Linked DNA regions of Homo sapiens. The protein of the gene in region 2 purifies or fractionates together with the protein of the main gene of each other region. This does not show direct contact. Each region holds a gene or a part of one and is shown on either strand. Other genes may lie near its edges. The genes, in order: CLGN, BACE2, ABCD1, FADS1, CTPS2, PKP4 and ZC3H4.

The links.
Region 1: the proteins of BACE2 (region 2) and CLGN purify together in Homo sapiens (co-immunoprecipitation; one large-scale study listed by IntAct). This does not show direct contact.
Region 3: the proteins of BACE2 (region 2) and ABCD1 purify together in Homo sapiens (affinity purification with mass spectrometry; one large-scale study listed by BioGRID and IntAct). This does not show direct contact.
Region 4: the proteins of BACE2 (region 2) and FADS1 purify together in Homo sapiens (affinity purification with mass spectrometry; one large-scale study listed by BioGRID and IntAct). This does not show direct contact.
Region 5: the proteins of BACE2 (region 2) and CTPS2 purify together in Homo sapiens (affinity purification with mass spectrometry; one large-scale study listed by BioGRID and IntAct). This does not show direct contact.
Region 6: the proteins of BACE2 (region 2) and PKP4 purify together in Homo sapiens (affinity purification with mass spectrometry; one large-scale study listed by BioGRID and IntAct). This does not show direct contact.
Region 7: the proteins of BACE2 (region 2) and ZC3H4 purify together in Homo sapiens (affinity purification with mass spectrometry; one large-scale study listed by BioGRID and IntAct). This does not show direct contact.

Annotation. Positions count from the first base shown.
Region 1 is NC_000004.12:140,407,149-140,410,648, reverse strand, and holds part of CLGN (calmegin precursor), read left to right. Parts: intron 1-22; coding exon 23-96; intron 97-753; coding exon 754-812; intron 813-3,500. UniProt on the Homo sapiens protein: Functions during spermatogenesis as a chaperone for a range of client proteins that are important for sperm adhesion onto the egg zona pellucida and for subsequent penetration of the zona pellucida.
Region 2 is NC_000021.9:41,272,660-41,276,159, reverse strand, and holds part of BACE2 (beta-secretase 2 isoform A preproprotein), read right to left. Parts: intron 790-3,500; coding exon 536-789; 3' UTR 1-535. UniProt on the Homo sapiens protein: Responsible for the proteolytic processing of the amyloid precursor protein (APP).
Region 3 is NC_000023.11:153,731,356-153,734,855, forward strand, and holds part of ABCD1 (ATP-binding cassette sub-family D member 1), read left to right. Parts: intron 1-3,496; exon of another isoform or gene 3,497-3,500. UniProt on the Homo sapiens protein: ATP-dependent transporter of the ATP-binding cassette (ABC) family involved in the transport of very long chain fatty acid (VLCFA)-CoA from the cytosol to the peroxisome lumen.
Region 4 is NC_000011.10:61,800,004-61,803,503, reverse strand, and holds part of FADS1 (acyl-CoA (8-3)-desaturase), read left to right. Parts: intron 1-44; coding exon 45-141; intron 142-392; coding exon 393-472; intron 473-577; coding exon 578-703; intron 704-1,041; coding exon 1,042-1,093; 3' UTR 1,094-3,500.
Region 5 is NC_000023.11:16,706,170-16,709,669, reverse strand, and holds part of CTPS2 (CTP synthase 2), read left to right. Parts: intron 1-1,151; exon of another isoform or gene 1,152-1,251; intron 1,252-2,172; exon of another isoform or gene 2,173-2,261; intron 2,262-3,500. UniProt on the Homo sapiens protein: Catalyzes the ATP-dependent amination of UTP to CTP with either L-glutamine or ammonia as the source of nitrogen. Constitutes the rate-limiting enzyme in the synthesis of cytosine nucleotides.
Region 6 is NC_000002.12:158,676,952-158,679,440, reverse strand, and holds part of PKP4 (plakophilin-4), read right to left. Parts: intron 861-2,489; coding exon 787-860; intron 196-786; exon of another isoform or gene 52-195; intron 1-51. UniProt on the Homo sapiens protein: Plays a role as a regulator of Rho activity during cytokinesis. May play a role in junctional plaques.
Region 7 is NC_000019.10:47,066,232-47,068,776, reverse strand, and holds part of ZC3H4 (zinc finger CCCH domain-containing protein 4), read left to right. Parts: intron 1-907; coding exon 908-2,421; 3' UTR 2,422-2,545. UniProt on the Homo sapiens protein: RNA-binding protein that suppresses transcription of long non-coding RNAs (lncRNAs). LncRNAs are defined as transcripts more than 200 nucleotides that are not translated into protein.

The DNA.
Region 1 (3,500 bases), on a different chromosome or scaffold from region 2:
ACTTGGAAAATCTCTTTTCTAGATTAAATATAAGACACCTCAACCTATAGGAGAAGTATATTTTGCAGAAACTTTTGATAGTGGAAGGTTGGCTGGGTGAGTATTCATTCAAGAGAATGTTTTCTTTGATTTATTAGCTTTTTTGAAGTTATTAGGTTTTGGCCTATGAAAATTATCTCTACTACAGATCTATAAAAAATTTTAAAGTAGTTTAATTGACAATGTAAATCAGTACTTAGTATATTTTTGTAATTGATAGAATGTTTAATTTGAATAGTTATTTATTCAAAGAAAATATACTAATTCCGAATGCAAAGATGAAATTTATAACATTTCTTTATTCTCTAGGACAGATTAACACTCTTAAGTTCAGATGACAAATATGAGTACTGCTCTACTCTAAATAATGGAAAAAACAAAAGTTAATATTAAATGATTATTATGTGTCAGATGTCCTTAAAAAAAGTAGATAATTACCATATTTAATCCCCATTTTACAGGTGGAGAAACCGAGGTTTCTTGTACCTTACCTGTGATCATACAGCTAGTAAATTATAGATTCCAAATTCGGTTTAACTCTAGCCCTTCAGGATTATGTGTAGGCATCCTTATTTAGCATCTAAGTATGAATTTATTGTTGAATGAAAAGTGACTGTATTGGGTGATCTTTTATTGTGTTTCTGTATGCCTTATATCTATAAATTGCTGCTTTTATTGTCAATGACATATATGTATGTTCAACTTTATTTACAGATGGGTCTTATCAAAAGCAAAGAAAGATGACATGGATGAGGAAATTTCAATATACGATGGTAAAATATTTATTTAAGTATTAGATATAACCAGTATGGCCTGGAGTTCACTAAACTTTGAGATTAGATTTTTGTTAAATTGTGTTGGCTGGAGTCCCCCACCCTGCCTCACAATAAAATGTTCAGTCTTTTATCTTGTCCCTCTTCAATATTTCTGAAAAACCCTTCGCTATTTCTGAAAATCTCACTCTTAAGCCAGTTAATCTAGTTTTCTAACTGAACAGTTGAATTTTCACTCTACTGCTGTTAGTCTTTTGCATTTCCTGAAGCAGTATTTCCCAGGCTACTGCTGTCTCTATGGTTTCATCTCAAGCATAGACACACCTTGATCTATAAATTAAATAAATTATAATTTATGGTAAGATTCTCCTAGCAAGTAAAAAGCAGAAGATAGCTAATGAGAGCTACAAGATATGTGGCTGCTTCTGGAATCCTCATCTCCAGGTCTATATCCATTATCATAGGGTGTCTAATAGGATTATCTTCAACCTTAGCTCTAGAAAGAAATGTCCTATAGGCAGGGGTCATATTGTCTTCCCTAATAGGACTACCCTAGAGTATGACCAAATATTTTCTTCTTTGTGGTCTAAAAACCAGCCTCCTTGATTGTTATATGCTGAAGCAAGATCAGCCTCTTCTCACAGTGACTGATAGTGGTAATTTCTTCTTTCTCAGAGGACCTCATACTCATAAACATGTGGCCCTGCACTCAGACTCTGATAAGCAGTTACATCACAACAGCAAAACAGATAGCATGTTGGATGTCAGCTGTCTGCTTCCTTTTCATAGTTTCTGTTTAGTGTAAGATAAAGATCATACCTGCATGTCTTCCTTTGCATGGTGTTCGCCATCCCAGCAAATCCCCTGTGTATATATATACACATATATACATATATACACAAATATATATACATATACACATATATGTGTGTATATATATGTGTGTGTGTGTATATATATATATATATATATATATGCTTATCAACTCCAAAAAGGACACCACCATATGCACAGAAAAAGCAGTAGTGGGATTTCTGGATCAAATAGTAGATCTACTTTCAGTTTTTTAATAAACCTCCATGCTGTTTTCCATAGAGGCTGTATTAATTTACATTGCACCAGCAGTGTATAAATGTTCCCTTTTTACCACATCCATGCCAATTGTTTTTTGACTTTTTAATAATGGCCATTCTTACAGGGGTAACGTAGTATCTCATTGTGGTTTTAATTTGCATTTCCTTGATGATTAGTGATGTTGAGCATTTTCTAAACATGTTCGTTGGCCATTTCTATATCTTCTTTTGAGAAATGTCTATTTATGTCATTTGCCTACTTTCTGATGGGATTAATTTTTTTCTTGCTGATTTGTTTGAGTCTCATGATTCTGGATACTAGTCCTTTGTCAGATTCATAGGTTATTAATATTTTCTCCCACACTGTGGGTTATCTGTTTACTCTGATGATTATTTCTTTCGCTGTGCAGAAGCTTTTTAGTTTAATTAGGTCCCATTTATTTATTTTTGTTTTTGTTGCATTTGCTTTTGGGTTCTTGGTCATGAATTCTTTGCCTAAGCCAATGTCTAGAAGAGTTTTTCTGGTGTTATCTTCTAGAATTTTCATGGTTTCAGATCTTAGGTTTAAGTCTTTAATCCATCTTGAGTTGATTTTTGTATAAGGTGACAAGTAAGGATCCAGTTTCATTCTTCTATATGTGGCTTGCCAGTTTTCTCAGTACCATTTATTAAATAGGGTGTCCTTTCCCTAATTTATATTTTTGTATGCTTGGTCAAAGATCAGTTAGTTGTAAGTATTTTGCTTTATTTCTGGTTCTTTATTCTGTTCCAGTGGTCTATGTGTCTACCTGAGACCATTACCATGCTGTTTTGATAGTATGGCCCTGTATAATTTGAAGTCAGGTAATGTGATGTCTCCAGATTTGTTCTTTTTGCTTAGGATTACTTTGGCTATTCAGGCTCTTTTTTGGTTCCATATGAACTTTTGGATTTTTTTTCCTAATTCTGTGAAAAATGTTTTTGGTATTTTCACAATAATCACACTGAATCTGTAGATGGCTTTGGGCGCTATGATCATTTTCATGATATTGATTCTTCCAATCCATGAGCATGGGATGTGTTTCCATTTGTTTGTGTCATCTATGATTTTTTTCAGCAGTGTTTTGTAGTCCTCCTTGTATAGATAGATCTTTCACCTCTGTTAAGAATATTCCTAGGGATTTTTTTTTTTTTTTTTGCAGCCATTGTAAAAGTCATTGAGTTCTTGATTTGATTTTCAGTTTGGTCGTTGTTGCTATGTAGCAGTACTACTGATTTGTGTACATTGATTTTGTAAGCTGAGACTTTTATTGAATTGATTTTTCAAGTCTAGTAGTCTATTGGATGAGTCTTTTGGGTTTTCTAGGTATGCAATCATATCATTAGCAAACAGTGATAGCTTGACTTCCTCGTTTCCAATTTGTATGTCCTTTATTTCTTTCTCTTGCCAGATTGCGCTGGCTAGGACTTCCAGATAAAGTTGTTACTTCTTAAAATAAGACCTTTATAGGGGGCGAGAGGCAAACTACAAGTTAGTGATAATACAATTCACCATCAATGTGAGAGAAAGAAAACCAAGTACATTAATCTTTTTCAAAAAAATATAATATGACCAAATCAGGGGGAGAAAGAAAAG
Region 2 (3,500 bases):
TCTCAAGGGTACAGCTTGGTTACATCCCCAGGCCCCAGGCTGATTCTCCTGCCATCATACTGCAAGCCTTCCTGTACCACTTTGACCCAGGTTGAGGTCTGGCGGAAAATAACCTCAAAGGCAATTAATACAAAAAGCTTCCTGTAAGCTAAGAGGGGTTATCAACTATATGTACTTATTTTTCCAGAGATTGAAGAGAGAAGAGAACGAGCCAAGGCTTGGTTTTGTTTTATGTTGGTGGCACATGTAGACACTTTGGCATAACGAACCCCATAGAGCCTGCAGCCCAATCCACTCTGTTTTGGTTTAGAATGAAGTTTTTTTTTTAATTATTTTTCTTGGAAGTAGGGAGGATTTGAAAGCTTGAAAATCAAGAATCAAAAGACAGTGAATCTAGAAGGCATCTGGGAGCAGAACAGAGATTGAAGACGGGTGGGCACAGGAGAAAGCGCCACCATCGATCCCGGCTGCTGCCCTGGAAATGTGATTTTCTTAATAGCTGAGTTCATGGTTGCTTGAGGTCAGGCCTGGCTATTCATTTCCAGCGATGTCTGACCAGAGAGGACTCATCATTGACGACCTCAGGGTCACGGGGGCGACGCTGACACCGGAACGGCAGCAGCAGCAGGACGATTAAGACAAGGAGGATGGCTCCACAGACGCTCATGAGCGCATAGGACACAATCCACAAAATGGGCTCGCTCAAAGACTGAGCGGGGACACAGTTGCTGGCTACATCCTCTGTTGAGAAAGGCCCGGAAATTTCAGACACTGCAGCACCTGCAATTTCTGGGGAGACAGAAAGGGAAAATCCACAGCTGTGAAATGAGCGGTCCACCTCTCACATTGGACACAGACAGAACCCCTTGGTTTATTAAACCACAGTTAAAGTCCACTGAGGTCCCAGTGGCTTAGACAGCTCAGGAAGCACTGAGTGGGGTCACGGCTCAGCGTGCCTTTGGGGGTCCAGTCCCTGCAAACTGGAACGACGGCATGTTTTAAGGTGTGTGGGTACCGAGCCTAGGTGTGGAGGGGAACTGCAGCAGGGCACATATGGAAGCACCCTGTGCTTCATGGAATGCCAGCGACACTGCGGTACTACACAGGTGAGAGTGCAGGTCAGCACCTGGTCATGACAGCTGTGTGGGTTGTGCTTCCTCAGTGGAGATGAAAAAAGAGGAGAAAGAGAAGGAGAATTTACCGCAGAAAGCTCAGCTGGACCTGCCTACGTCATGGGGAATTTTCCCCAGTGGAGTCAACCTGAGTTCACTCCCTACCATGGATTCTACAACAGATAGGGACCTCATATCAACCTGACTCATAGTCTTAGTGGGTTGTGAGACCTCCGGGGGTCAGGCTGGCTTGAGAGACCCTCCCTGCCCCACTCTTATCCTAGGTCTCATCAACAGCCAGGAGCAGTAAGTGAATGCAACACCTAATTCATGACATCACTGGTGACAAAGAGAAACAGTTAAAATTCACCCGGTGACTTCTGCTAGAGACTCTTGAATAACTTCAAACCAAGAAGGAAGTTGAGATGATTTCTTAAAGCCGGTTTGTGGATTATCTGTAGACTTCCTTTGCCTACACTAGGCTTCTCTGCCCCTTTCAGGAATATGGGATCTTAAGCTTTACTTGCAATACGGAAAAGAAATAGGCCTCATTACCCATTTTTCCTATATTTAATCACAGAAATGAATATTTTGGCACCAGAAAATAACACTGCTAAGAATTTGATTTTTCTGTAACTAAAGCCTCAAGATCTTCAGAGCTGCCAAATAATACCCTTTTTGACTGAGGAAAGAAAAAGTCAAAATAACAATGCGATAATGACCTGAAAAGAATGGTTTTAAAATCAGAGGAAAACAGGCTTGATTACTTTGCAAAGTGACTGCATTTTCTTGCTAATGTGGATTCTGTCATAATATGGCTTTCCTAAGTGCACTGAAAAAGAAAGGCAATGAACAAGAGCCTGCCAACACCGAGAACAGAGGGATGCACCCTGCAGTCAATCTATACTCCCATTTCCTGGTTTGTAGATAATGATCTTCTTGCTGTGTCTTTACATGGTGGAAGAGACAAGGGAGCTCTCTTGGACTGTCTTTAATAATGGGCAGTAATTCCATTTACAAAGAAAAGCTCTGCCCTCGTGACCTAATCACCTTCCAAAGGCCCCAACTCCAAATATCATCACCTTGGAGATTAGGTTTCTGTTGCGGGAAGTCAGGGACCCCGAACGGAGGGACTGGCCAAAGCCATGGCAGAAGAACATAAATTGTGAAGATTTCAGACATTTATTAGTTCCTTAAATTAGTACTTTTATAATTTCTTACGCCTGTCTTTACTGCAATCTCTGAACATAAATTGTGAAGATTTCATGGACATTTATCACTTCCCCAATCAATACTCTTGTGATTTCCTATGCTGTCTTTACTTTAATCTCTTAATCCCATCATCTTCCTAAGCTGAGAATGTATGCCACCTCAGGACCCTGTGATGATTGTGTTAACTGCACAAATTGTTTAAACAATATGAAATCTGGGCACCTTGAGAAAAGAACAGGCTAACAGCAATGTTCAGGGAACAAAGGAGATAACCATTAGGTCTGGCTGCCTGAGAGCCGGGCGGAACAGAGCCATATTTCTCTTCTTTCAAAAGCAAATAGGAGAAATATCGCTGAATTATTTTTCTCAGCAGGAACAGCCCTGAGAAAAAGAATGTGTTCCTAGGGGTAGGTCCCTGAAATGGCTGCTCTGGCAATGTCTGTCTTTTACGGTTGCCGATAAGGGATGAAATAAGCCCCGGTCTCCCATAGCGCTCCCAGGCCTATCAGGACAAGGAAATTTCCGCCTAATAAATTTTGGTCAGACCAGTTGTCTGCTCTCAAACCCTGTCTCCTGATAAGATGTTATCAATGACAATGCGTGCCCAAAGCTTCATTAGCAATTTTGATTTCGCCCTGGTCCTGTGATCTTGCCCTGCCTCCATTTGCCTTGTAATATTTTATTACCTTGTGAAGTATGTGATCTCTGTGACCCACACCCTATTCGTACACTCCCTCCCCTTTGAAAATCACTAATAAAAACTTGCTGGTTTTGCAGCTCAGGGGGCATCACGAACCTGCCGACATGTGATGTCTTCCCTGGACACCCAGCTTTAAAATTTCTCTCTTTTGTACTCTTTCCCTTTATTTCTCAGACCGGCTGACACTTAAGGAAATAGAAAAGAACCTACGTGAAATAATGTTGAATTATCGGGGGCAGGTTCCCCCGATAGGTTTCAACATAAGAATTTTGGCAGGACATAAACATTGATTCTACAGCACTAATTATGCAAAGAAGCAGGAAAACACAGTTCATAATAGGGAGCAAAATCAATCAATTGGAACTTAGTAAGAAATGGCACAGATGATAGAATTAGCAGGCAGGATATCAAGATATTTATTATAACTGTATTCTACTCAGGATGCCAGAGAAAATGTTAAACATGTTAAATAGAGA
Region 3 (3,500 bases), on a different chromosome or scaffold from region 2:
ACAAATTGTCCTCCCTGAGTACCCTGTGTTTCTTTTTTTCTGGGTACTTTGATCACTTTCTTTCTTTTTGGCATTCTGCAGTTTCACTATGACATGTTTAGGTGTCAGTTTTTGTTGATTCTGCTTGAGACTTGTTATATGTCCTTTGAATATTTGAGTTTTTCAATCATTCTGGAAGATTCTCAGCTATTAGCTTTTCAGATATTGCCTGACTCTCATTCTTTTTTCCTGTTCTTCTAGAACTGGCAGCCAGTGCTGGACTTCTGACTCTCTTCGTTGTGTCTTTCGGTTTCTGTTTACTGTTTCCCATCTCACACTGTCTGTGCTGAATTCTGGGGATGCCCTGAGGCCTTCCTGTTTGCTCATTTTCCAGTTCACCAGTTTTCTCTTTGGCCATGTCTAATTGGAATTTTGTTCACATTTCAGTGGCTGTTTTGTAAGTTCTATTTCATTCTATTTCAAATAGGAATTTGAAAATGGACATTTCCTTTTTCAAGTAGAAATGTCAGGCTGTTTCTGTGTCTTATTTGCTCATCTTTTTGACTGCTCCTTTTATACTGTGTATCAGGTTAGTCATACTTACCCCACCGTCTCTATCTGATGGTTTGGTTAGCTTCAGTTCTTGGGAGTATCATTCGCCTGTCTTCTGTCTGCTGGTCTTCACTCATGGTGGATCATTTCCTTGTGGGTTTTGCAACAGAACTTCTATGGGGATTGGTGTGGCCTCAATGGAGGGTGTAAGTCCAAATGTCCTTCTGTTTTGGCCAAGCACTCCAGGGTAAGCAGTTGGAGGCCATTAGTTAGTGCGGAGGGGATGGTTCCTGAATTGAGAGGTGGTTTCATTTGAATTCATTTGAACTCCAGGCACATTGTTACAAATTTTCAGAGGAGGCTTTTTGTTCATTGGGCATAGAGCCCAGGCTAAGCAAGGAAAGCTTCCTGGTCTTTGCCCTGCCTGCCTCTGGGGCTATCAAAGGATCACCTGGCTGTCTGCTTCTCTTTGCTCCCAGAAGTTTCCCTTGCTTTCCGTCAAGCTTGGCTCTGCTCGAAATAGTGTCGTAGTTTACCCAGTTTGGTGGGAAGAGGGTTTTCGATTTATAAACAGAAGTCTGATTCTCTCCCTGTTCCTGTTTCCACCTCGGGGCTTCCATGCCCTCAACTGTCTGTGTCATCCTCTGGGTGACTCACCAAGAGGAAGGATCTAATTCGGGGACTGCACATCAAGGGCAGCCTTGATGCTGGCGTAGGTGCCCAGCCCAGTCAGCGCACCTAGCCCCGGGCACCGAGACAGCCCGCGAGACAGCACCTGCAGCCGCTTCGCTCCATGGCTGCCATTGGTCACATCGGGCTGCTCCCTGCCCTGAAGGCTTAGGACTTTTCTGAGCCTCTGCTGTGCCAGGCTTTGTGGGCTCCTGGCCCTGCTCTGGTGGTCCTCAGAGCCAGCAGCCTTTGAAGGCTGTGAAGCATTCCCTTTCCCCTGGCTTGATAGGCTCTGTCCTGTGGCCGTCTGTTTTTTTTTGGAGGGGGAGCTTTTGAGATGGAGTCTCACTCTGTCTCCCAGGCTGGAGTGCAGTGGCACGATCTTGGCTCACTGCAACCTCCATCTCCCGGGTTCAAGTGATTCTCCTGCCTCAGCCTCCCAAGTAGCTGGGACTACAGGTACACGCCACCATGCCTGGCTAATTTTTGTGTTTTTAGTAGAGATGGGGTTTCGCCATGTTGGTCAGGCTGGTCTTGAACTCCTGACCTCAAGTGATCCACCTGCCTCGGCCTCCCAAAGTGCTGGGATTATAGGTGTGAGCCACTGTGCCTGGTCCTGTGGCCTTCTTATTTCCCCAAATGCCAGGCCTGCTCTGTCTTGGGGCCTGTGCCAGGAGCACTCTTTCCTCTGCTGCCCCATGGCGCAGCCCCCCTAGGCAAGGCCCGGCCTGCCCACCGCCACCTTTCCTGTCTCCTTCCCTGCCCCACTGCTCTCCCAAGCACTCGACACCCCGTCAGTGGCGCTTTTCTCTCTCCCTGCCATGGACTGCAAGCTCCATGGGGTCAGGGATTTTTGTCTGTTTTGTCCCTGCTGTGTCCCCTGCATCGGGTGGCTAGTGAGGGCTCCAGGTGCTTCAAGGAGGTGGAGCGCACTGGGTGGGAAGGCAGGCTCTTACCGGTTGGAAGATTTAGATAAGCTTTGCTGGGCTGGTGTGCAAGGCAGGTGGGCTCAGGAGATGGGCAGGGCCTGTGGCTCCCACTCCAGCCCTGAGGCCTTGCTCTGTCCAGCTCTGGGGCCCTGGCCTTATTCACCCAAGGCTCCAAGAGAACCTGCAGAAGGCAGCTGGTTCTACGCCAGGATGCCCTGGGCACAAAGACTTGCAGACCCTTCCCTTTGTCCACAGCGACTGTCCAGCTCTCAGAACACCTGGGGAGGAGGGCTGTGTCCTTGAGAGCACCGTGGGAAGGAAGGTCCAAGGCCTTCGACCTTTAGGATTCACATCCCCGCCCCGCCAGCCCAATCTAGTTCCCTGGTTTCCCGGGCCAGGCCCCTTTCCACCCTGCATGGCCCTGAGCGGATACTGCGTTCCGTGTCTTCCCCCAGCCCCCAGCCAATGATCCCTGAGGCTTCCCCCTCAGGATCACACCCACCCCTGGATACAGTCCTCGGGTCCTTCACAGGACATTCCCACCACTTCAGCCACACCCCAGCACCCTCAGAGGCGGCCTTCGCCCTTGCTCCCCACCTCTGCTCCTGTGGGGAATCTAAGGATCAAGAAACTGAGAGTCAAGGCCATTGATGAGGGTCAGGGGTGCTGCCACGGGGCCTAGAGTGTGACAGAAAAGCAAATTAAGACAGGAGCAGCTCCTGGGAGAAGCAGACACCAAACAATACGGCTGCTGGCCCAGAGGTCAAAAACCATGGCCTAGAGGGGGCGGTCAGGAAGTGGGACATTAGGCCGGGCGTGGTGGCCCATGCCTGCAATCCCAGCATCTTTGGAGGCCAAGGCAAGTGGATCACCTGAGTTCAGGAGTTTGAGACCAGCCTGGCCAACATGGTGAGACTTCGTCTCTACTAAAAATACAAAAAAAATTCGCTGGGCTTGGTGGCGGGTGCCTGTAATCCCAGCTACTCGGGAGGCTGAGGCACAAGAATCCCTTGAACCTGGGGAGGCAGAGGTTGCAGTGAGCCAAGATCACACCACTGCACTCCAGCCTGGGCAACAGAGCAAGACTCCATCTCAAAAAAAAGAAAAGAAAAAAAAAAGAAAGTTGGCGTTTCAAAGCCAAACAGCTCTGGGCGTTGGATGACAAAGTTCAGATGTGCCCCAGGAGGGGCGACATCAGTGGTGCAGGACAGAGGGCCGGTGGAAGGAGCTGGCTGTACGTAGAAACAAAACCAGATGCCTACTGGTGCATTTAAAAATCAACGTTATTGAGACGTAATTAACATACTATACAATTCTTCCTTTTCCATGTACAGTTTAAATTCATTCACAGAGTTGTGCAGCCATCATCAC
Region 4 (3,500 bases), on a different chromosome or scaffold from region 2:
GGGCTCTGTGTGTACTGTTTTTGTCTGTGTAATACATCTAACAGGTTCCTGGAAAGCAACTGGTTTGTGTGGGTGACACAGATGAACCATATTCCCATGCACATTGATCATGACCGGAACATGGACTGGGTTTCCACCCAGGTAAGGGACAGTCACTCAGAAGACTGGAGCATAACACAACTATTGAAAAGGATGCGTAGGTGAAAACAGCAAAAACAAAAAGTCCCCCAAACAGCATTTTCTCATTAGCCTGAGGCTCTTGTTCTGCAACCATGTGAAGGGAGTGACCAAGACAGTCTCATGTCCCTTCCTCAGCCAGCTTTACCTGGAGAATGCTGGGCTGGCCTTTCCATCTGATATTCAACATGCTCTCCCCTGACCTTTTCCGCCAGCTCCAGGCCACATGCAATGTCCACAAGTCTGCCTTCAATGACTGGTTCAGTGGACACCTCAACTTCCAGATTGAGCACCAGTGAGTAGGGAGCCTGGGGAAGCAGGGTCCTGGGGAGGGTGTAAGTGTTGGGTACAGGTGGGAGCAGAGAAGCAGGAACCACTGACTCCCCCGTTCTCCCTAAAGTCTTTTTCCCACGATGCCTCGACACAATTACCACAAAGTGGCTCCCCTGGTGCAGTCCTTGTGTGCCAAGCATGGCATAGAGTACCAGTCCAAGCCCCTGCTGTCAGCCTTCGCCGACATCATCCAGTGAGTATCTGAGACCAGGAAGATGGCTAGTAGGGAGGGAAGAGGGCAGGGCAATGGAAATGATGACATGTAGGGTGGGGAGTGAACAGAAGGTGTTCCCAGTCGTGTGGGATGGAGTTCACCATGGCAAAGGCAGGATTCTTTATTGGACCTGTGGCCAGGTCAGGCCTTTGCCCTCATTGGGGTTCCCCTCAGTACCATGGCCCAAGCTAGCTTTCTCTAAAGTAGAGGGGAGGAAAACCTCCAGATGGAAGAAGGCCTTAACCTCACTGCTCCATCTCCGGTGGGTTCAACTCTGCTTGTCTCCCTCACTGTCTGCCCCCATTTTGTCCCTGCAGCTCACTAAAGGAGTCAGGGCAGCTCTGGCTAGATGCCTATCTTCACCAATAACAACAGCCACCCTGCCCAGTCTGGAAGAAGAGGAGGAAGACTCTGGAGCCAAGGCAGAGGGGAGCTTGAGGGACAATGCCACTATAGTTTAATACTCAGAGGGGGTTGGGTTTGGGGACATAAAGCCTCTGACTCAAACTCCTCCCTTTTATCTTCTAGCCACAGTTCTAAGACCCAAAGTGGGGGGTGGACACAGAAGTCCCTAGGAGGGAAGGAGCTGTTGGGGCAGGGGTGTAAATTATTTCCTTTTTCTAGTTTGGCACATGCAGGTAGTTGGTGAACAGAGAGAACCAGGAGGGTAACAGAAGAGGAGGGACCTACTGAACCCAGAGTCAGGAAGAGATTTAACACTAAAATTCCACTCATGCCGGGCGTGGTGGCACGCGCCTGTAATCCCAGCTACCCAGGAGGCTGAGGCAGGAGAATCGCTTGAACCGGGGAGGTGGAGGTTGCAGTGAGCTGAGATCACGCCATTGTACTCCAGCCTGGGCGACAGAGCAAGACTCCATTTCAAAAAAAAAAAAAAAATCCACTCATATAAAAGGTGAGCTCAGCTCACTGGTCCATTTCTCAGTGGCTTCTCCATCCTCATTTGCAAACCTCAGAGGGATAAGGCAGTTGAACCTGATGAGCAAGAATTATAACAGCAAGGAAACATTAATGCTTAGAATTCTGAGATCCAGCACAACTCAGTCTGTGGGAGCTCAGCTCGCTGCCCAGGGATAGGTATGACCTATGTCTGCCTTAGGCTGCTGGGAGATGCCATTCTCCAGTTTCAGAAGCAGGCAGGGCAAAGGTCAAGACTGTGGTATTGGGGTCTTTTGGCTCTGAAGGATCCTGGAACCACTGATTTTGGTTTATTCCCTCCAGGGTCTAAAGAGAACAAGAGGTGCTAGCTCTTACCAAAACAGATGGTAGAGAGAGTTGCTGGCTATTTAAAAAGCTCTTTCATCTTTTAATTCACCTCTTCTTTTCACCTCTTTAACCACTCCTCAGGAACAGAACACTTCTAGGACTGGGGGTCTTTTAGCTCCATAAGCAAGTGAGCAGATGGGACAAGTTAGTCTTTTCTCCCTAGAAACAAAGGGGATGCCCAGTGGTTTCCCTTTGCTTCCCAACCTAAAATTTCAAGTTTAATAAAATAGCAATTAGCAGAAGTGACCAAATTGGGAGATAATTATCAGTCATGAGGAAAGACACAGATTTCGGTCATAAAGAATGTAAGGGCTATAAGTAGAAACTTTCTATAACCTAAATGATGTTATAGAATTATTTTTGAGCAGGAGCAGAAAGATTAAATATGATCACTTCATACTTCTAAATCAGAAATAGGAAGATTAAAACCACAGAACAGTTTGTGATTTCTATTGCTGTAGCTAGGTATCTTACTCTGTCCACTCTTGTTCAAGTATCTAACTCTTCTGGAAACCAAATAGGCTTTAGAAGAGATTATCCTATATTCCTATCAGTATAATACTAAAATGTAACTTTTTAATCATCTGGTTTTTAAAAGATAAACAGTTTAGCCCATCTCTCCAGAGAGCAAACATAGGAATATGACTCAGGAGCCTCCTAGGGCTTATCATCAGCCCTCACACCCGCTTCCCCCTCCAACCCACAGCCTTTGCTTCCAGGTGGCAGGATTACTACTTTGCCTCTTCAGCAGCATCTACTCTAGGCATATTGATCATTTTAGACACTGGGAGAAGAGAACCTCAAACTAGGAGGAAAAGACAGAGCCTCCACTTAGTTTTGGGAGGGGATGGCAGACAGTCAAGGAGATGAGCGTCCTAAGGCATGTTGGGATAGGGTCAGATGCACCACCCATGGAGAGGTTTGTCAACACAAAGACATGGAAGGTTAGAGGTTTGTCAACAAAAAGACATGGAAGGTTAGGTTTGTCAACACAAAGACATGGAAGATTAGAGGTTTGTCAACACAAAGACACAGGAAGAATGGGCTGCAGAAGATTTAGATGTTTTCCATTTGGGCACATTTTACTTAGCTGGAGAACTAGGTTTAAAACAGCCTGGGTAGGAAAATTAGAAGCAAGCTGGATGCAGTGGCTCATGCCTGTAATCCCAACACTTTTGGGAGGTCCAGGCAGGAGGATCACTTGGGCCCAGGAGGTCAAGCCTGCAGCGAGCTGAGATCACACCACTGCACTCCAGCCTGGGGTGATAGAACAAGACCCTGTCTCAAAAAAAAAAAAAACAACAAAAACTTAGAATTGAGGAGTTGTACCTCCATTGGCTTCCTCACTCCAAAATAGGTGCTGATCCTTCCTATTCCTATTCTTTGCCACCTTTTGGGTGTGGTGTCACCAGCCTGTTTAGCCAAGTAGCTTTGGGCATAGGCTGCCCAATCTGAGCAAACACCAGTGAGGCTCTATTGAGCCAAGACCAAG
Region 5 (3,500 bases), on a different chromosome or scaffold from region 2:
ACCATGTTGGCCAGGATGGTCTTGATTTCTTGACCTTGTGATCCGCCCGCCTTGGCCTCCCAAAGTGTTGGGATTACAGGCGTGAGCCATTGCACCCGGCCATAAGATGGAAATCTTAGTGGTGACAAATAAAATTTAGATCTTAGTTTAAAAAAACATAGTCAATAATATATTCAATTTTATAGTCTGCTCTCTTTTTCAGGTAACATAAGCATTTTCTTTCTTCCTTTTTTTTTTTTTTTGAGACACGGTTTTACTTTGTTGCCCAGGTTGGAGGGCACTGGCACAATCTTGGCTCACTGCAACCTCCACCTCCCAGGTTCAAGCAATTCTCGTGCCTCAGCCTCCTGAGTAGCCGGGATTACAGGTGCACGCCACCACACCTGGCTGATTTTTTGTATTTTAGTAGAGATGGGGTTTCCCCATGTTGCCCAGGCTGGTCTCGAACTCCTGAGCTCAGGCAATCCGCCCGTCTTGGCCTCCCAAAGTGCTGGGATTACAGGCGTGAGCCACCGTGCCCGGCCACATAAGCATTTTCTTTTTTTTTAACTTTTTTTTTTGAGACGAAGTCTCGCTCTTGTCCCCCAGGCTGGAGTGCAATGGTGCTATCTGGGTTCACTACAACCTCTGCCTCCCGGGTTCAAGCGATTCTCCTGCCTCAGCCTCCCAAGTAGCTGGGATTACAGGCGCCTGCCACCACGCCTGGCTAATTTTTGTATTTTTAGTAGAGACAGGGTTTCACCATGTTGGCCAGGCTGGTCTCGAACTCCTGACCTCAGGTGATCCGCCTGCCTCAGCCTCCCAAAGAAGCATTTTCTTATACAAAAATTTATTAGGCATAATGTGACTTGTACGAATGTATGCCAGTTTTCTTCACCATACCTCTACGGCATTTTTCCATTTCGGTAACTTTTACAAAGAGAGTCATTTGAACAGTATAACAGTGCCAGAATAAGGTATAATTAAAGCACAGTTTATTTGCCCCTTAATCCTGCAGGAAAGGTGAAGTCCAGTGGAACATAGACCTTGTCTTTTTGTTTATCTCCATATTCCTAGGACTTGGAAATATGTCAAGCATGTAATAGATGTTCAAATAAACATTATATATGTAATATATGTATATATATAATTTATTTATTTATTTATTTCAGACGGAGTCTCACTCTGTTGTCCAGACTGGAGTGCAATGGTGTGATCTTGGCTCTGGGTTTGGATTGACAATGTTTTAAGCTATAAACATAGGTCAGATAGGTGGGTGCCCTGGTGACTAGTGAAGATGTGCGATGGCATTGAATGTGATCAACTGTGTTGTGTAGAGAAAGGTAGGCCCAGGGACTTAGGGAGGCCATCTGGGATGGAACATGTATATTTTGAATAGCTTCAGTTTACTCAGCCTGACCATGGTCAGCTAGTTCAAATGGAATTCACAGCTCTGACGTGTGATAACTTTAGTTAAGATAGTTTGTTTTGAAAGGTAAGCAGAGGAAACCACAAAATCAGAATGGGCATTCCTTTGAGGAGGACAAATAAGAAGTGGGTAACTGAAATTGTTCCTACCCGAATGCATTTGTGCTGAATTTCCAAGTATGTAAAAAAATTGTGAAATTACAAATGAAAGTGAAATTTATAGTTATTACCTTTTGTTAGTTACTGTCTCTCTCTCTCTCTCTTTTTATTTTTTCTTTTTTGGTACCGAGTCTCACCCTATTGTCCAGGCTGGAATGCAGTGGTGTGATCTCAGCTCACTGCAACCTCCGCCTCCCGGCTTCAAGTGATTCTCCTGCCTCAGCCTCCCATGCAGCTCATGTAGCTGGGACCACAGGCACACGCCACCACGCCCGGCTACTTTTTATATTTTTAGTAGAGACATTGTTTCGCCACGCTGACCAGGATGGTCTTGAACTCCTGACCTCAGGTGATCCGCCCGCCTTGGCCTCCCAAAGTGCTGAGATTACAGGCATGAGCCACCGCACCTGGTCTCTCTTTTTATTTTTGAGACAGGATCTTGCTTTGTCACCCAGGCTGGAGTGCAGTGGCACAATCACTTGGCTAACTGCAGCCTTGACCTCCTGGGCTCAAGCAATCCTCCTGCCTCAGCCTCCCCAGTAGCTGGGACTACAGGTGTGTGCCACCACACCTGGCTAATGTTTTATTTTTCTTTTGTAGAGAGGGAGTCTCACTATGTTGACCAGGTTGGTGTCGAACTTCTGACCTCAAGAGATCCTCCCACCTCAGCCTTCCAAAGTGTTGGGATTACAGATGTGAGCCACCATGCCTGGCATTATTTTTCTTTTTCTGTAACTGTAATTTTATATTGTGGTCTTACTCAGTTGCCCATTTGCCTGCCATGAGTACACAAATAATACTGTTTATGGTCTACTTTCACATACATGGTGAAATTACAAGAGCAGAAGGCCCCTGTACACACTCAAGGGAAAAACAATAGTACTCAAAGTAAAGAAAATCAAGTTATTGGGCTTCCTATAAAACAAAAGGGTTTGAATCAGAAAGCAGCAGAAAAGTCAAATAAATTTTCCTTATGACTGTCAACTTAAAAATCACAAGATCTATAAATTTAGAAAGGAGACTTTCTTTTTTAAAACATTTTCTTTTCTTTTTTTTTTTTTGAGACAGAGTCTCACTCTGTTGCCCAGGCTGGAGTGCAGTGGCGTGATCTCAGCTCACTGCAACCTCCGCCTCCCAGGTTCAAGTGATTCTCCTGCCTCAGCCTCCCGAGTAGCTGGGATTACAGGCGCATACTACCATGCTCGGCTAATTTTTGTTTGTTTGTTTGTTTGTTTTTTTTTTGAGACAGAGTTTCGCTCTTGTCACCCAGACTGGAGTGCAATGGTGCGATCTCAGCTCACTGCAACCTCCTCCACCCAGGTTCAAGCAATTATCCTGCCTGAGCCTCCTGAGTACCTGGGATTACAAGTGCCCACAACCACGCCCGGCTAATTTTTGTATTTTTAGTAGAGATGGGATTTCACCATGTTCGCCAGGCTGGTCTTAAACTGCTGACCTCAGGTGATCCACCCGCCTTGGCCTCCCAAAGTGCTGGGATTACAGGTGTGAGCCACTATGCCCAGCCTAACTTTTGTATTTTTTAGTAGAGACAGGGTTTCATCATGTTGGCCAGGCTGGTCTCAAACTCCTGACCTCAGGTGTTCCGCCTGCCTCAGCCTTCCAAAGTGCTGGGATTACAGGCATGAGCCATTGCACCTGGCCAAAATTTTTCTTACCTTTCGAGTCGGAGTCTCACTCTGTTGCCCAGACCGGAGTGCAGTGGCACGATCTGGGCTCACTGCAACCTCTGCCTCCCAGGTTCAAGTGATTCTCGTGCTTCAGCCCCGCAAGTAGCTGGGATTACAGGTGCCTGCCACCACACCTGGCTAATTTTTTATTTTTAGTAGAGACAGGGTTTCACCATGTTGGCCAGGCTGGTCTCGAACTCCTGATCTTAAGTGATCTGCCTGCATTGGCTGCCCAAAGTGCTGGGA
Region 6 (2,489 bases), on a different chromosome or scaffold from region 2:
CATAGCATAAATTATGAATAACTTGGAAAGTTCTTTTTCTTCCACCTACAGAGAAAAGATGACGAGAAGGAGAGGTCTTAGAACACATCCTTATCTGAAGGACAGGATACAGTCTTGTTTTAGGAAACTCCAGCTGCTCTGTGTCATTGAAAGGGAAGAGGAGAGACCAGATGGTCCAAGTTCGCCATGGCACTGGTAAGGACCTGAGACTGACTGCAGGCCCTTCATGAAAGCAAAGCCTGGGTGTGTTATAACCGCCAGTCCCACTCTCCCACAGTGAGGTCCATCCCGGCAGGGGCTGAGTCCACCTTGACCACTGAGACAAACAGACCTGGTGATGGACTCAGTGTTTTTAAATTGTGGAGCTTGGACAGGGAGGGGCGAGATGGAGAACGAGGTATACACAAAAGAGAACAATGTGATGAGGGCATGAAGTGTGCTTACCAACCTTCCCTCACTCAGAGGCTGGAAGAGATTTTAGAGCTTAACAGAAAAAGAGTGGGAAGAGGACACTGCTGGGCAAAAGACATGAACTAAAGACTTCTCGGCTGTCCCCATCAGTGGCACGGTGGTCTCAGCAGTACCGATGTGGATACTCAAGAACGTGAGGCTACCGTGGAAATGCTTTGCTTAAACCACACGTTGAGTTTCCAAGGAGTGAAGATCCCCAGGGAAAGCATCTAGGACCCTGCCATGTTGGCCCAGCTCTGGGAAGTCAATCGACGTGGACCCCTTACTGTGTTAACTGCTAATCAGCCTTCTGTAAAAATGATATTGCAAATTCACCTGTAGCCGTCTATTTTGTTCTCTTGCTGGTGAGGAATAGGAACTGATGTAAATTGGTGAAGGTTTGCTGGAGCCTGTAAGAAAATATTTTATGAAATTAAAACTAGTGCTTATTACTCTGGTCCATTAGGCTGGGTGGTCTCCCCTGCACTAGGGCTAGCACTGTCCCCGACAGGGCCTGTCTTCCCCAGTGCCAATGCGGGCTGGGAGAGGTAGCAGCTCAGGGTCCCTGGATCTGGCCTGGCTGCTGCTTACCTCAGGGCTGGTGGGGGCTAATGGCAAAACTATGGCAGAAACAGGCTGTGTGTGTTTCCCCAAAAAGCAATGCCAGTGCAGAGCCCATGCGCAAAGGTTCCTGCTCAAGCTCTGCTCACATGTGGGAGGGTTTCTCCAGCTGGCTTTGGACAGCAGCACGGGATCCTGAGCTGAGGAACACTCCTTTTCCAGGGCTCTGAGCTACGGCAGTGGGTCAGAGAGGAGAAGCGAAACACAATATTCGAACAAGCCCCATGCCTTCCAAACAAACAACTGGGATTCAAAATCTCAGGTCAAGGAAGGAGCAACAATGGAGGCACAGTCTTGTACCTGGCATATTTAAGTATGTTTTAATACAAAAGGAACTTGGTAATAATGAGATAATTGTCTTCAAAAGTCCATAGTAGACTCCTGATGATGTTACCCTTCCATTATTATTAAGGCTAGCAAAGATTTTTATTTTTTTAATGAGGAAAATGAAACGTAGTTGAGGCAAATTAGTTTATTGAAGCAAGCGAAGAAGATACAGAAGGGCATGCATGCTAAAGAGGTGATCTGTAAGATAAAGCAGGCTGCTGCAAATCGGAAGCAACCATGCACTTCAGTTGGTATGTGCATTTCCTTTTGCCCAGAGCTTGGTGTTGAAATGTAGCATCTGCAATTTTCTGAGCTATTAATTGCCATAGTAACAACAGTCGATTAGTAAATAGTCCTGTGAAATCACAATTTCAAAGACAACAGTACAATGGAGACTGCCCCCCCAGCAGGAGTAAAGCTGCCACCAGCTTTTATTTATTTTTAATAGACAGGTTTGAGAAAAGAGTACTTTTTGTGGGGTAGCTCACACTGACTTATTTGGAACATCTAAAGTAGTTATAATCGCCAGACGGTTGAGAATGGGAACAGTATGAAATCTTAGTAACCCTTTGGGCTGGTATCCTTTAAATAAATTGTATGCACAGCTTTCTGAATAGGATATAAAAATATTAACACTATGTAACATTATTTTTGTTATTCTTAAAAAATAATCACGTTGAGAAGAATCACATTATACCTTTTGCTATTTATTCAAACTCTTCTCCATGAAAATGTAAATGAAATTGATCTCCATTCTCTGGTTTGAATTTAAGAGATGAGCCAGTCTAGAAGATGTGGCCCCTGCAAAGTGACACTGGGCTGACGGTTCTGATGCATGTGGAAAACACAGAGACTGCTCGAGCCAGGAGGGGACGGAGCAAAGGGACTGTGCCAGTGAGCAGCCAGAAATGATTTATTTGGATACAGCCCTCTTTTTATTTGTGCCCACCGTACAACTACATACATACATACATACAAACAAGTACATGCTTGTTTTACTTTAAACAAGCAGAAAAGGCAACAATCCCCAAAGTAGGAAAGGGAATGACTGGAACATGGTTTGCTGCTGGGGGACTGTCTCAATACAAGCA
Region 7 (2,545 bases), on a different chromosome or scaffold from region 2:
CTCACAGCCCCTGTTTTCCTACCGTGTTCTCAAGGAGCCAACAAACAAGAGCTAGTCATTGAAATTAACCAGTAATAATCATAGTCACGAGCCACCGAGTCTCAGTTGCTGCATGGTTGACTTAGTGGTGTCCACTTTGGGGTAAAATGACAAGTGGTGTCTAGATCCTGAAGCCAGAGGCCACAGGTGGCCCTGACTGTAGCGCAGGAGCCAGTGGGACAGCAGGAGGAGGGGCCGCTCCCCTGATGGCCCAGGCTGTACTGGCCTAGGTTTTGCTTGAGCCCATGTCTGAGTCTGCCCAGCCGGCCCTGCCTCTTATCAGCTGGTGACTGCGGTTGGTCCACACCAGCCCCTCCCTGGGACATGGGGACATCACGAGCCGGTTTGGGGTCAAGTGTCTCTGAGCCCCAGGCCCAGCCAGAACTGAGTCAATGGTGTCTGCTACCAGGACCTCCAGAAAGAGGTGCCCACAGCTGGACTTGCCACAGTGGGGGCTGAACCAGCCCGGAGGTGGGCGGGAGGAAACAGCAGAGCTCTGGGTTAGGAGTCCTAGCCCGATCCTGGCCCTGACTCCAATGTAACGGCACTGTGCTTCTGTTTTCACATCTGTCAAATGGGCATGATAGTATCACTACCTCCTGGGGTGGTTGTGAGTTATTTAAATAAAACAAACTACTTAGTGCAGTGCCGCCACTGAGGAGAGCTGGGGAGCATGGCATAAACCGAGCGCCTTAGCTCTCTGGGTCTCCTCAGCCGCCCACTGTGGGGAGGGAGCCTTAGAGAGGAGGACCTGAGGTTCTGAGAGGCACAAGCAAAGGAGCTGCTCACGGTGGGCTGCTGTGGGATCCAAGAGGGCGGGTGGTGGATGCGCCCACTCACCCCTCCCTGCTCCTCTGTTCTTTCCCAGGTGACACCGGAAACTGGTACTCAAGTGATGAGGATGAGGGTGGAAGCAGTGTCACCTCCATCCTGAAGACCTTGAGGCAGCAGACGTCCAGCCGACCCCCGGCTTCAGTTGGGGAGCTGAGCAGCAGTGGGCTGGGGGACCCCCGCCTCCAGAAGGGACACCCCACAGGAAGCCGGCTGGCTGACCCTCGCCTCAGCCGGGACCCCAGACTCACCCGCCATGTGGAGGCTTCTGGCGGGTCTGGCCCAGGTGATTCGGGACCCTCCGATCCTCGGCTGGCTCGCGCCCTGCCCACCTCCAAGCCCGAAGGCAGCCTTCATTCCAGCCCTGTGGGCCCCAGCAGTTCCAAGGGGTCTGGGCCGCCCCCAACGGAGGAGGAGGAAGGGGAGCGGGCCCTGCGGGAGAAGGCCGTGAACATTCCCCTGGACCCACTCCCCGGGCACCCTCTGCGGGACCCACGGTCACAGCTGCAGCAGTTCAGCCACATCAAGAAGGACGTGACCCTGAGCAAGCCCAGCTTCGCCCGCACCGTGCTCTGGAATCCCGAGGACCTGATCCCCCTACCCATCCCCAAGCAGGACGCAGTGCCCCCCGTGCCCGCGGCCCTGCAATCCATGCCCACCCTGGACCCCCGGCTGCACCGCGCTGCCACGGCAGGGCCCCCCAACGCCCGGCAGCGCCCGGGCGCCTCCACGGATTCCAGCACACAGGGCGCCAACCTCCCCGACTTTGAACTTCTGTCTCGCATCCTCAAGACAGTCAATGCCACCGGCTCCTCGGCCGCCCCCGGTTCCAGCGACAAACCCAGTGACCCCCGGGTGCGGAAGGCCCCCACCGACCCTCGGCTGCAGAAACCCACAGACTCTACGGCCTCCTCCCGGGCTGCCAAGCCCGGCCCTGCTGAGGCGCCCTCTCCCACCGCCAGCCCGAGTGGGGATGCCTCCCCACCAGCCACCGCTCCCTACGACCCCCGCGTGCTGGCGGCCGGTGGACTGGGCCAGGGCGGAGGGGGCGGGCAGAGCAGTGTGCTGAGCGGTATCAGCCTCTACGACCCGAGGACTCCCAACGCGGGGGGCAAAGCCACAGAGCCGGCTGCTGACACGGGTGCCCAGCCCAAGGGTGCTGAGGGCAATGGCAAGAGCTCGGCCTCCAAGGCTAAGGAGCCCCCGTTCGTCCGCAAGTCTGCCCTGGAACAGCCAGAGACAGGGAAGGCCGGTGCTGATGGGGGCACCCCCACGGACAGATACAACAGCTACAACCGGCCCCGGCCCAAGGCTGCTGCAGCCCCCGCTGCCACCACCGCCACCCCACCCCCCGAGGGTGCCCCACCCCAGCCCGGGGTGCACAACCTGCCCGTGCCCACCCTCTTCGGGACGGTGAAGCAGACACCCAAGACGGGCTCAGGAAGCCCATTTGCTGGGAACAGTCCGGCCCGCGAGGGTGAGCAGGATGCGGCATCCCTGAAGGATGTTTTTAAAGGCTTCGACCCCACGGCCTCCCCCTTTTGCCAGTAGTGTCCAGCCAGAGCTGCGGCTCCAGCCACCCTTCCTAGGGTGGCATTCAGGGCAGCACCCAGGGTAGGGAACTTGGGGGCAAGGGGAGGCAGGCTGGGTGTTCCTTTTTTCTTTTCTTTTTCTT